Linked DNA regions of Homo sapiens. The protein of the gene in region 1 purifies or fractionates together with the protein of each later gene. This does not show direct contact. Each region holds a gene or a part of one and is shown on either strand. Other genes may lie near its edges.

Evidence for each region.
Region 2: the proteins of HACD3 (region 1) and SLC25A13 fractionate together in Homo sapiens (co-fractionation; one large-scale study listed by BioGRID). This does not show direct contact.
Region 3: the proteins of HACD3 (region 1) and ARMC9 purify together in Homo sapiens (co-immunoprecipitation; one large-scale study listed by IntAct). This does not show direct contact.

What each region holds. Positions count from the first base shown.
Region 1 is NC_000015.10:65,557,917-65,561,566, forward strand, and holds part of HACD3 (very-long-chain (3R)-3-hydroxyacyl-CoA dehydratase 3), read left to right. Parts: intron 1-763; coding exon 764-815; intron 816-3,650. UniProt on the Homo sapiens protein: Catalyzes the third of the four reactions of the long-chain fatty acids elongation cycle. This endoplasmic reticulum-bound enzymatic process, allows the addition of two carbons to the chain of long- and very long-chain fatty acids/VLCFAs per cycle.
Region 2 is NC_000007.14:96,182,588-96,186,237, reverse strand, and holds part of SLC25A13 (electrogenic aspartate/glutamate antiporter SLC25A13, mitochondrial), read left to right. Parts: intron 1-1,223; coding exon of another isoform or gene 1,224-1,226; coding exon 1,227-1,311; intron 1,312-1,802; coding exon 1,803-1,961; intron 1,962-3,650. UniProt on the Homo sapiens protein: Mitochondrial electrogenic aspartate/glutamate antiporter that favors efflux of aspartate and entry of glutamate and proton within the mitochondria as part of the malate-aspartate shuttle.
Region 3 is NC_000002.12:231,201,612-231,205,261, forward strand, and holds part of ARMC9 (lisH domain-containing protein ARMC9), read left to right. Parts: intron 1-3,650. UniProt on the Homo sapiens protein: Involved in ciliogenesis. It is required for appropriate acetylation and polyglutamylation of ciliary microtubules, and regulation of cilium length. Acts as a positive regulator of hedgehog (Hh)signaling.

The DNA.
Region 1 (3,650 bases):
AAAGCGCCATCATTATGGGACTGTTTTTTTTTTTTTTTTTGAGCACTTCCTTACTTTCTGGCAGTATAAGCTGCTCCAGGCTTATCTTGCATGTATGTTTCCTGCTCCAGCCCTGGAACAGCCATTTCTTCAAGCATCTCTGTTCTTATTGTGGAATAGCATTGGAAACCAAGATCTGGGTGCCGGGTATGCTCATTGCTACCAGGTTGCCATTGCCTTTAAGTTCTCTTCACTGACAGAACAAGAAAATATATGTTTGGATAGTAACCCATGCATACACATACACCTGTAAATATTTCTGTATGGATCCATCTGTATCTCTGTTAAGCTAAACGTGAGTTCATAGTGATGTTGGAAACATGATCTTAGCTTCTGGAAAAATTATACTAAAATTCTAGAAGTCTTGAAAAATAAAATAGCAGTCTACCTCCTGCCTTAAACTTCTGTTTTATTTCTCTGACTGCGACAGATCTTCTGGATGTCCTTTCCAGCTTTAAGATTCCAAGGTCACTTGTCAGTTTGGAAGCCAGCTCACTGGGTTAATTTTGTGAACAATGGATGGGCACCTGTGATGCTAATGCTGCTTAGTAAGCAGGAGTCAGGCGTTTGGCCCTATGACCTAGAATATTCTCCCAATGATGCACTGACCCCAACTGGAGGAGTTGGCTTTGAGGGAGTCAGATTACTCAGCCAGCATATGGACTTTTGCAAGCATCTGGGAATTCTAACTTGTGTTCTTGGAAAACTTTTGTCTAAATTCTAGGAAGAAGAGCGCCTAAATAAACTCCGACTGGAAAGCGAAGGCTCTCCTGAAAGTAAGTTGTGCTGCTGCCATGGTAGTTACCAGTTAACTTGTGCTAGTGTTGGAAGTATGGATAATTGTGATGTGGCAGGAGAGCTAATGATTTCATCCCGGTGAGCTGTGTGGGTGAGTTTATGAAAAAGCTTTTAGGTCCAGTGCTTAAGGTCTGCACTACCCACGTCAGAATCCTTACCTTTAATGTGTCCTTTGTGTTTTGGTTGTTATTTCATGAGTACACCAAGGCTAGTGTAGCAGAATGAAAGAACTCCTGGACTGGCCTCATGGCAGATGGCAACCAAATCCTGCAGAGACTTGTGGAAATGATTGCATGGATCCAAGGCTACACTCCTTCAGCCTGGTGTTTTTCTCCCAGCTGAAATCTCAAAGGCTGTATGATACATAAGTGTGGTTGTCAGCCTGAAAGATGGAGAGTATTCTGTGTAGTCCTGCTATTCATTAACCTTTAACAAATCAATTTCTGTTTCCGTCTAACCACTTTAAGCAGGAAGCTCTGTAAGTGTATTATCTTCTGGGTGATGTAGTTAGATTAAATTCAGCAGCTATCTGTTAAAGTCATGCTGTGTGGCAAGCATTGTGCTGGGCCCTTGACTAAGAGCCAGAGGGATCCATCGTAGCGCCTATACTCAAAAGGGCTTACATTCTTAGTGAGGGAACTGCAGGTGTATGTAAAACTACCTCTGAAAAGCAGAATGAAATAAGTCCTTCTTACTTGTTCTAAGTTGAAATTTTTCAAATTTTAGTGGTACTTATCTAGCATGCCATAAATAAGGGAGGGGAAAGTTTTGGAGCAGTAGTTTTCAAACTGTGTTCCATGGTGCCCCAGGGGGTTCCCAGAGATGCTTTGGAGGAGTAGATCACACAAACAGGTCTACCTCAGTCAGAGCAGCTCTCTTTTGAGTGTTATGTGTTGGCATTCCGAATAAGGTTTCTTTTGAGAAGGAATTTTAAAAAATATTTGAATAGCGACTACCTTAGGGGAATATTCTTTCAGGAAAGCCGAGGAGGGGAGAGGTTCAGTGGAGGCAAAGAATAACAACATAAAAAAGCCACTTTGAGATTTAAATTAATGTTTTGGTGTCTTAAAGGGATAAACTTCAAAAATAGATAAAAATTCTAATATATGGATTTTTTGGGTGTTAGGTAAAGCTTTAACTGTTTTACCTAAATTCATAAAGTTTTCTGAACAAGGAAGTTCTTTATGGTGGGGAAGTGTAATAGATTTTTGTAGTTTTGAAGAAATAACTTTTAATTAGCTAAATGTTGCTAGAAGTCTGACATTTTTTGGAGTCTTAGGATAAGGCTGTGTTGTTTTTTTTTTTTTGAGATGGGGTCTTGCTATGCTGTCCAGGCTGATCTTAAGATACTGGGCTCAAGTGATCCTTCTACCTCAGCCTCCCAAGTAGCTGGGATTACAGGCATATGCCACTGTGCCTGGCTTAGGCTGCTTTTGATTGACCACATTATTAAATGTGATTATTTGAGGACCAACCAGATGTCTTTGCAGAATATCTGTAGCCTAGGAATAAATATGTAGCAGCAAAATCTGAACACCATAGATCTCCTCTTAAGAACTGTCCTTTTCTTTACCCTACTCCTTTGACTCAACAATGACTCTGTCAAAGCCTCTTGTTTCTTCCTTTACTCTGTAATTGGCTGTATCTTCATGAATCTTAGGCTGCAGATAAAATTAATGTCCCTTATTTTCCTGCATGTTGGTTTGAAATTGTCCTGCTTTGGTTATGTCCTCAGTCTGCCCATCTTTCAAAGCCCAGATCAGGCCAAGTATGATGGCTCATGCCTCTAATCCCAGCACTTTGGGAGACTGAGGCGGGAGGATCTTTTAGGCCAGGAGTTCGAGATCAGACTGGGCAACGTAGCAAGACTGTGTTTCTACAAAACATAATGGAATATAAAATTAGCAAGGTGTGGTGGCACAGACCTGTAGAACTAACTACTTGGGCGGTGAGGTGGGAGGATGGGTTGACTCCAGGAGGTCAGGGCTGCAGAGAGCTATGGTCCCACCACTGCATTCTAACCTGGGAACAGAGTGAGACCCTATCTCAAAAAAAAAAAAAAAAAAGCCCGGATTAGATACCAGCTTTATCCATGTAGACTAGCTTGATGCCTACTTCTCCAGCCTAATGTCGTTTTTTCACCTTGAAAGTTTCACAAGACATTACTTGTTACTCCCCACCTGGTATTACAGTTTTTAGATTGTAAGCTCTGAGGGCAGCCTTGAACTACCTTTGTATCCCAGTAGTTCTTCTCACAGTACCTTGCACATTGTAGGTATTCAGTTAATGCTTGGTTGAGTGAATATATAACCAAATATCAGGGTTGTTTTTTTCATTTACTGTATCTGTCTCTTTGAGCTAGTTTGACCTCAGTGACCTTAAAGAAATTCCAGAAAAGAAGAAACTATGGATTATATTAAGATGACTGGAGGGCCAGGCACGGTGGCTCATGCCTGTAATCCCAGCACTTTGGGAGGCCAAGGTGGGCAGATCACCTGAGGTTAGGAGTTTAAGACCACCCTGGCCAACATGATGAAACCCTGTCTCTGCTAAAATACAAAAATTAGCCGGGCGTGGTGGCGGAAGCCTGTAATCTCAGCTACTCGGGAGGCTGAGGCAGGAGAATTGCTTGAACCTGGGAGGTGGAGCGTGCAGTGAGCCGAGATTGTGCCACTGCACTCCAGCCTGGGTGACAGAGCAAGACTCTGTCTCAAAAAAAAAAGAAAAAAAAAATTGAGCCGGAGCTGAGGAAATCTTTATTTCCTTTTTGTAATGCCTCTTCAGATGGCCACTCATTTTTTTGCCAGGTGTTA
Region 2 (3,650 bases), on another chromosome or scaffold:
GGCTGGTCTCGAACTCCTGACCTCAAGTGATCCACCCACCTCGGCCTCCCAAAGTGCTGGGATTACAGGTGTGAGCCACTGCACCCAGCCTATTCTAACTTCAGAGGTTATGTACATTTTAAGGGTTTGGGTGTATATTACTAAACATCTCTCTATTTATGCTTGCTTTAATGGCAAATTTCAGAAGGCTTGTTATCAACTTTTGCCAGGCTGGGTATTGCCACTTAAAACAAAAACAAAAATACATACAAACCAAAAACCTGCCAATTTGATTGATGAAAAATGATGTCTCATTGATGTTTTTATTTGCTTTATTTACTTTATTTTATTTTATTTTTTTGATACAGTCTCACTCTGTTGCCCAGGCTGGAGTGCAGTGGCGCGATCTCGGCTCACTGCAAGCTTCACCTCACGGGTTCACGCCATTCTCCTGCCTCAGCTTCCCAAGTAGCTGGGACTACAGGCGCCTGCCACCACACCCAGCTAATTTTTTTCTTTTTTTTGTATTTTTAGTAGAGACGGGGTTTCACCATGTTAGCCAGGATGGTCTCAATCTCCTGACCTCATGATCCACCCACCTCGGCCTCCTGAAGTGCTGGGATTACAGGCATGAGCCACCGTACCCGACCTATTTTTATTTTTGAGATAGAGTCTTGCTCTGTTGCCGAGGCTGAAGTGCAGTGGCGTGATCTCAGCTCACTGCAACCTCTGCCCCCTGGGCTCAAGTGATTCTCCCTCCTCAGCCTGAGTAGCTGAGACTACAGGCACATGCCACCATGCTGGTCTAATTTTTGTGTTATATTATAGAGATGGGCTTTCACCATGTTATCCAGGCTGGTCTTGAACTCCTGTGCTCAGGTAATCCGCCCGCCTCAGCCTCCCAAAGTGCTGGGATTACAGGCGTGAGCCACCGTGCCTGGCCTCAGTGATGTTTTTAACTGTGCATTTTTTTTAATGAGAATTTGAAAATAGGCTTATAACATCATTTTTGTCAAAGGATGGTTTTGATTATATTGAAATTTGGTTTTAAACATTAATAGCACTAAAATCTTTTTATTAATAAGAACTTATGAAATCCATTCCTACTTTTTTCCTTGACATTTTAGTTGTATCATGGATTTAGAACCCAATGAGTAATGTTTAAAGTTAATGTATGGTCATTTTTGTTTTATCTTCTTTTCTGTCACCTGTTTTCCTGCTCTCTGATTCCTGTGCATGCAAAGCAGAAGGCCTCAGGTGATTCAGCTCGACCAGTTCTTCTACAAGTTGCAGAGTCGGCCTACAGGTTTGGTCTGGGTTCTGTTGCTGGAGGTTAGTCATGGATGAGAGAAAAATTTTCACTTTTGTTATTCCTATTCTCTTTTCTCTGATTTTCCATCTTGAAATGTTAAAGGACAAAGTCTTCTCTAGTCTTTCCCAATGCCAGTTATCAGTTTCTACCTGTGAGGTAGGGCAAGAGTAAAGGGAACTCTTTTCCCATACCTGCATGTGATCAGGGACTTACAAGTGGCATTTTCCTCTATCTACAGATCAGGCCTTCCAAAGACAGGTTACTAATGAGGTTGGGCTGTAGCAATGTGCCTTAATTTAAAATATCTATGACATCCTTTTATTAGGGGATACTTGAATGAAAACCCTCAATTGTTTATTAAAGATATAAGAAAGGTAGTACTGTTTTAAAATCTGTATTTAAAATTCAAAACACATTTCTTTTCTCAGTCTTGTCCTTGACTTTAACTACCTTCTTCTTTCTTCTGACCTATCTTACTTTCTTCTGAGATAATGATATTGTTTAATTTTAGCTGTTGGAGCCACTGCTGTGTATCCTATCGATCTTGTAAAAACTCGAATGCAGAACCAACGATCAACTGGCTCTTTTGTGGGAGAACTCATGTATAAAAACAGCTTTGACTGTTTTAAGAAAGTGCTACGCTATGAAGGCTTCTTTGGACTGTATAGAGGTTAGTGCCACATGCTCAATACCTGTTAGGTGAAATAACACTCAAAGGTTTGGTTTCTCATCTTAGTGCCTGACATGAATTAGCAAGACTGCGTTAAAATGGAAATACAGCAGATTTTCAATTATCCATGCTAATGGGAGTAGGCTGGAGGCATCTAGGGCTTGGCTAATCAAAACAGCCCATAATCTGAAAATTATTTATAGTGCTCTGTTGTATGTTTTATTTCTTAAAATAATAAATTATTTTTATAAGCATCTTCCGTGAATTTTTGAAAGGCTCACATTGTTTGCATCCTTGAAGTACTCTATTCTCCAGCTAACAGGGAAAGGTATTCTGCCACCAGGACAAAGCCTACTCAGGATTCATGATTTTCCTGGAATACACCACAAAAAAGATAACGAAGGGTTCAGTAGAGCTCTCTTTTGCTGCTTCATCCTGAATTAAAGTTGCCCCTTTTCTTCATCTGACTCTCAACCCAATGGAGTTGATTCACACACCCCTCTAGCCAAGGTTTCCCCCCACTGAGACAGCCTGAAACAGGTAATCCTTCTTTCTCCACCTTTTCCTTTAACCATCTAAGGTTCATTAAGCAATGGAAGTAGTAGCAGAGAGTATGTCATCACTGATGGAAAGGATCCCACAGACCCTGACTGCTTTTCCACTGGCATTGGCCGAAGGAGACTTCTCAACTGTTCTTTCGGGGATTGCCTTCTACGAGAAGGAAACAGTGTTTCTGCATCAGTTAAAATACAGTATCACAAGGCAGTTCAAACTCAGCTGCTTTATAATTTGGCAGCGGCAAAGCTGGCAGAGTTTTCCCTCCTCTCCCCTACTAATGCTCTCTCTAGATGAAGAAAACAGTATTTAGTACTCTGCTGAGGTGGACGGTGAAACTGGCAGACATGGAAACCTGTGCCTCTGGGCCTCTTCTGCCATCTGCTGACTCTAGTCTTCAAATTAATTACCCCAGTTAAAAAAAACAAAAAGGATAAACCTTTCTTGAAACCTCTCACCTTAGAAGCCAGAAAGTCTCAAACTCCAGAGAAGTTCCATTTTGCAGGTCCTATTGTGTAGGTAGGTAGCCCCCATCAAAGGCCTTTTGATCTTTGCTCTGCCCTCTTTTCCTTATCCCCTGCCTCTTCTTACAATTTGGAAGGTCTTTGACCTCAGGTGATTGATGATGACCCTTTCAGGGTCACTGCCTTCCATTTGAAATGCTTTTCTTCCCTGATGGCAACAACTTTGCAAATGAAATGGCTTCCAAGTAGTACAAGGTTAATGTCACAGTTCCTATTCTGCAGTGAGTCAGGCAAAATTGGCCGCCTTACCTGTCCATATGGGTGGTTTTTGGAAGGGAAATCTCGAGTCTCAAGTCTGGGCAGACATCTGAGCATTGCTTCATAAACTACTTTTTGGGCTTTTCTTGGTATTAGATTAAATGTCAAGGATGCCTTTAGAATTGTAAGAATGCTTCCCAACACTGCTCAGTGTCTTTAATTTGCTTAAGTTGATTTTTTATTTTGAGTCCTTTTTTCTCGATCTTTGACCATACCTGGCAGGTCTGATTTTTGGTTACGTCTATATTTCCCTTTTGCAACCTGTACTGTTGGCAACTAGAAGTGTGCCTGAGTACTGAGTGCTGAGCTAATGTGGGCTATGCAAAGAGGCTTCCACTCTTGCCGTTTCAGT
Region 3 (3,650 bases), on another chromosome or scaffold:
GCCTCCTTCAGCAGGTCTCAGACCCCACTGCTTCCTCACTGCTCTGCAGCCGCCTTATGTGTGTTCCCCTCCCCCATTCTTAACCTGATTAGTTCCAGTGTCCCATCGTGGTTGTACTGTTTTCCCTTTCCTCTCTCTTCTAGAAGAACCTCTCACATTGGTTAACCTAACTCAGATAGCTGAAAGTGCCTGGAGAAGAGCTGCAAAACTGTGCAGACTGATTCCATTTTAGATTCAAGTGCAGAGATCTTAAATGGACTATAATACCAGCAACCCTGCCATGTTGCTGTAGTCGCTTTGGTTCCCACCCTCCCTTCCGTTCCCACTCTCCCTTCTCTTCGAACTGTCACCATGCTTCTTACTTGCAGCCGATGACCTTTTTTCTTTCTTTCTTTTTTTTTTTTTTTTGACAGAGTCTCACTCTGTTGCCCAGGATGGAGTGCAATGGCACGATCTCGGCTCATTGCAACCTCCACTTCCTGGGTTCAAGCGATTCTCCTGCCTCAGCTTCCAGAGTAGCTGGGATTACAGGTGCCTGCCACCACACCCGGCTAATTTTTGTATTTTTAGTAGAGATGGGGTTTTACCATGCTGGTCAGGCTGGTCTTGAACTCCCAGCATCAGGCGATCTGCCTGCCTTGGCCTCCCAAAGTGCTGGGATTACAGGCGTGAGCCACCGTGCCCAGCTGATCTTGTTTCTTGTTTCACTTTTTTTTTTTTTTTTTTTTTGAGACAGGGTCTTACTTTGTCACCTAGGCTGGAGTGCCATGGCGTGATCCCGGCTCACTACAGCCTTGACCTTCCTGGTTCAAGTGATCCTCCTGTCTCATCCTCCCCAGTAGCTGGGATTACAGGCACACACCACCACACCCAGCTAATTTTTGTATTTCTGTAGAGATGAGGTTTCACCACGTTGCCCAGGCTGGTCTCGAACTCATGAGCTCAAGTGATCTGCCTGCCTTGGTGTCCCAAAGTGCCAAGATTACAGGTGTGAGCCACTGCACCCAGCCTGTTTCACTTCTAATCACTAAATCTGTGTCTTTGCTCAGCACCCATATTCTCTGCTATCCCTCTGAATGCCGTTCCTGCTTCTCCCTTAAACTCCAGGCTCATATATCTGTAAGAATTAAAGAAAGAGGAGAGAAACACGAAGGGTGACTTGACAGTCAACAGGTTTGTTTCCTGGGTAACGGCCAAACTTCACCCTCTTACAATGGGCCTCAGTATAACAGTGGGCCTTAATAAGGACATTCTGTTCCCTTCAGGTGCACTAAGGGAAGCTAAAAGCAGACTTGGGGGGTATGCCTGCAGCTGCAGAAAGTTGTATAGGAACAGACACACAACTCTCCCTCCCAGATAAGCACAACAGAGAGACACAGAAACAGTTCAAGCCTTTGATAAACTCTCCCACCCTGAATCCTTAAAAACTCTTAGTCTGTAGGAGAGTGTGGCTCTGACCTAACTCGGTCGGAAGTCCCTCCCAGGTTTGAAATAAACCTGTTGACTGTCGAGCCACCCTTCGTGTTTCTCTCCTCTCTCCTCTTTCTTTGGTTCTTACAATACCCACTGACCATTTCGGAACCTCCACTGGAATGTCTAACAGGCAGCTCAGACTTATAGCCAAAACAGAGCTCTTGGTTTGACCTCAAAACAGTCCTTCCCCAGGTTTTCGTTGACTCAGCAAATCACATACTCTTCGGCCAGCTGCTCAGATCCCAGGGTTCTTCCTTCCCTTCTTCCCCTCATGTCCCACAACTAACTGGTCTGCAGATTGTGCCTCTTCTGCCTTTTCCATCTGGACTCACAGCGCTCATGGCCCCTCTTGCTTATCCAAATGATGCTCATGGCTGGCGTGGCCTGAGCAGTACTCATCTCCCTCTTCCCACTCCCCTCCAGTCTTCTCTGTAGAGCAGGCAACATGCATATTAAAAAATGGACATCAGCAGCCGGGCGTGGTGGCTCACCCCTGTAATCCCAGCACTTTGGGAGGCAGAGGAGGGAGGATTGAGCCCAGGAGTTCAAGACCAGCCTGAGCAATGGTGAAATCCTGTCTCTGAAAAAACCAAGGCTGGGCGTGGTGGCTCATGCCTGTAATCCCAGCACTTTGGGAGGCCGAGGCAGGTGGATCACCTGAGGTCAGGAGTTCGAGACCAGCCTGGCCAACGTGGTAAAACCCCGTCTCTACTAAAAATACAAAAATTAGCTAGGCATGGTGGCGGGTGCCTGTAATCCCAGCTACTCGGGAGGCTGAAGCAGGAGAATTGCTGGAACCCCGGAGGTGGAGGTTGCAGTGAGCCAAGATTGTGCCATTCTACTCCAGCCCAAGCAACAACAGCGAGACTCTGTCTCAAAAACAAACAAACAAAAAAAAACCTCACCAAAAACCAAACAAATGAAAAAACCAGAAAACAAAAGACTTGGGGCATAGTGGCACACTCTGTAGGCCCAGCTACTCAGGAGGCTGAGGTGGGAGGACTGCTTGAGTCCAGGAGTTTGAGGCTGCAGTGAGCTATGATCATGTCACTGCACTCTAGCCTGGGCAACAGAGGGAAACTCTGTCTCAGGAAAAAAAAAAAAAAAAAAAAAGGACATCAGTGGTGTCAGTCCCCTCCTCCATACTCTCTCTGAGCCTCCTGTTACTGTCAGCCTAATGTCCAAGCCACTTACCAGCTCTGTAAGGCCCACCTGACCTGGCCCCGGCCCCCCATTGCCTGCTGCTGTCTGCCTCACCCCTAGCTACATCCCAATACCCCAAGACTGCAGAGCTCTTCAGCCTGAGGCCTGTGCACTAACAAAGCCATCTTCCCCAGATCCAGGTGCTCAATCTTTGCTGAAATGTCACATTCCCAGTGAGGCCATCAACCACTCTATCTAAAATAACCCCATACCCGTCTCCTTCAGGTTCTGTCCCTTTCCTTGCGCTGTTTTCTTCATGTCTGGAATCAATTTCCACTCCGTCCATGTTTTTGAGCCTGTACTGTGTGCCAGGCACTGGTCTAGGCACAGGGGAACACCTGTCAGGTGCTGTTGAGAAAAATCAAGCAGTACAAAGGGCTGAGAAGTGATGGGCCGACCTCTTAGAAAGGGTGGTCAGGGCAAGACTCTCTGAGGAGGTGACAGTTAGGCAGAGACCTGAATGAGACGTATCTGAAGGAAGGGCAGTGAGCCAGAGTTCACGAGGGCAGGCGTGTGCTTTGGGTGTTCAGTGGGTGTCCACAGGAACCACACAGTGGCCAGTGTGGCTCAGGTTTACAGAACAAATGGGAGTGTGTCAGAGGCCAAGTTGTCTAGGGCTTTGGGAGTTGAGCCTAAGGAGCCTGGCCTTCATCTGGAGGGCGCTGGAACCACAGGAGGGTCCCAAGCAGGAGGGGAATGCTCACTTGTTAAAAGTGTAGAAATTGGATTGAAGTGGAGAGAAAGGAGGTGGGGAGGCAGTGGCAGAAAAATGTAAGGTTACAGACTCAGAAGAGATCTGACTGAGTGTGGTGGCTCACGCCTATAATCCCAGCATTTTGGGAGGCCAAGGCGGGAGGATTGCATTACCCAGGAGTTTGGCAGCTTAGTAAGACCCTGTCTCCCTGTCTCTACTTAAAAAAAAAAAAAAAAAAATTACCTGGGTATGGTGGCATGCACCTATAGTTCTAGCCACT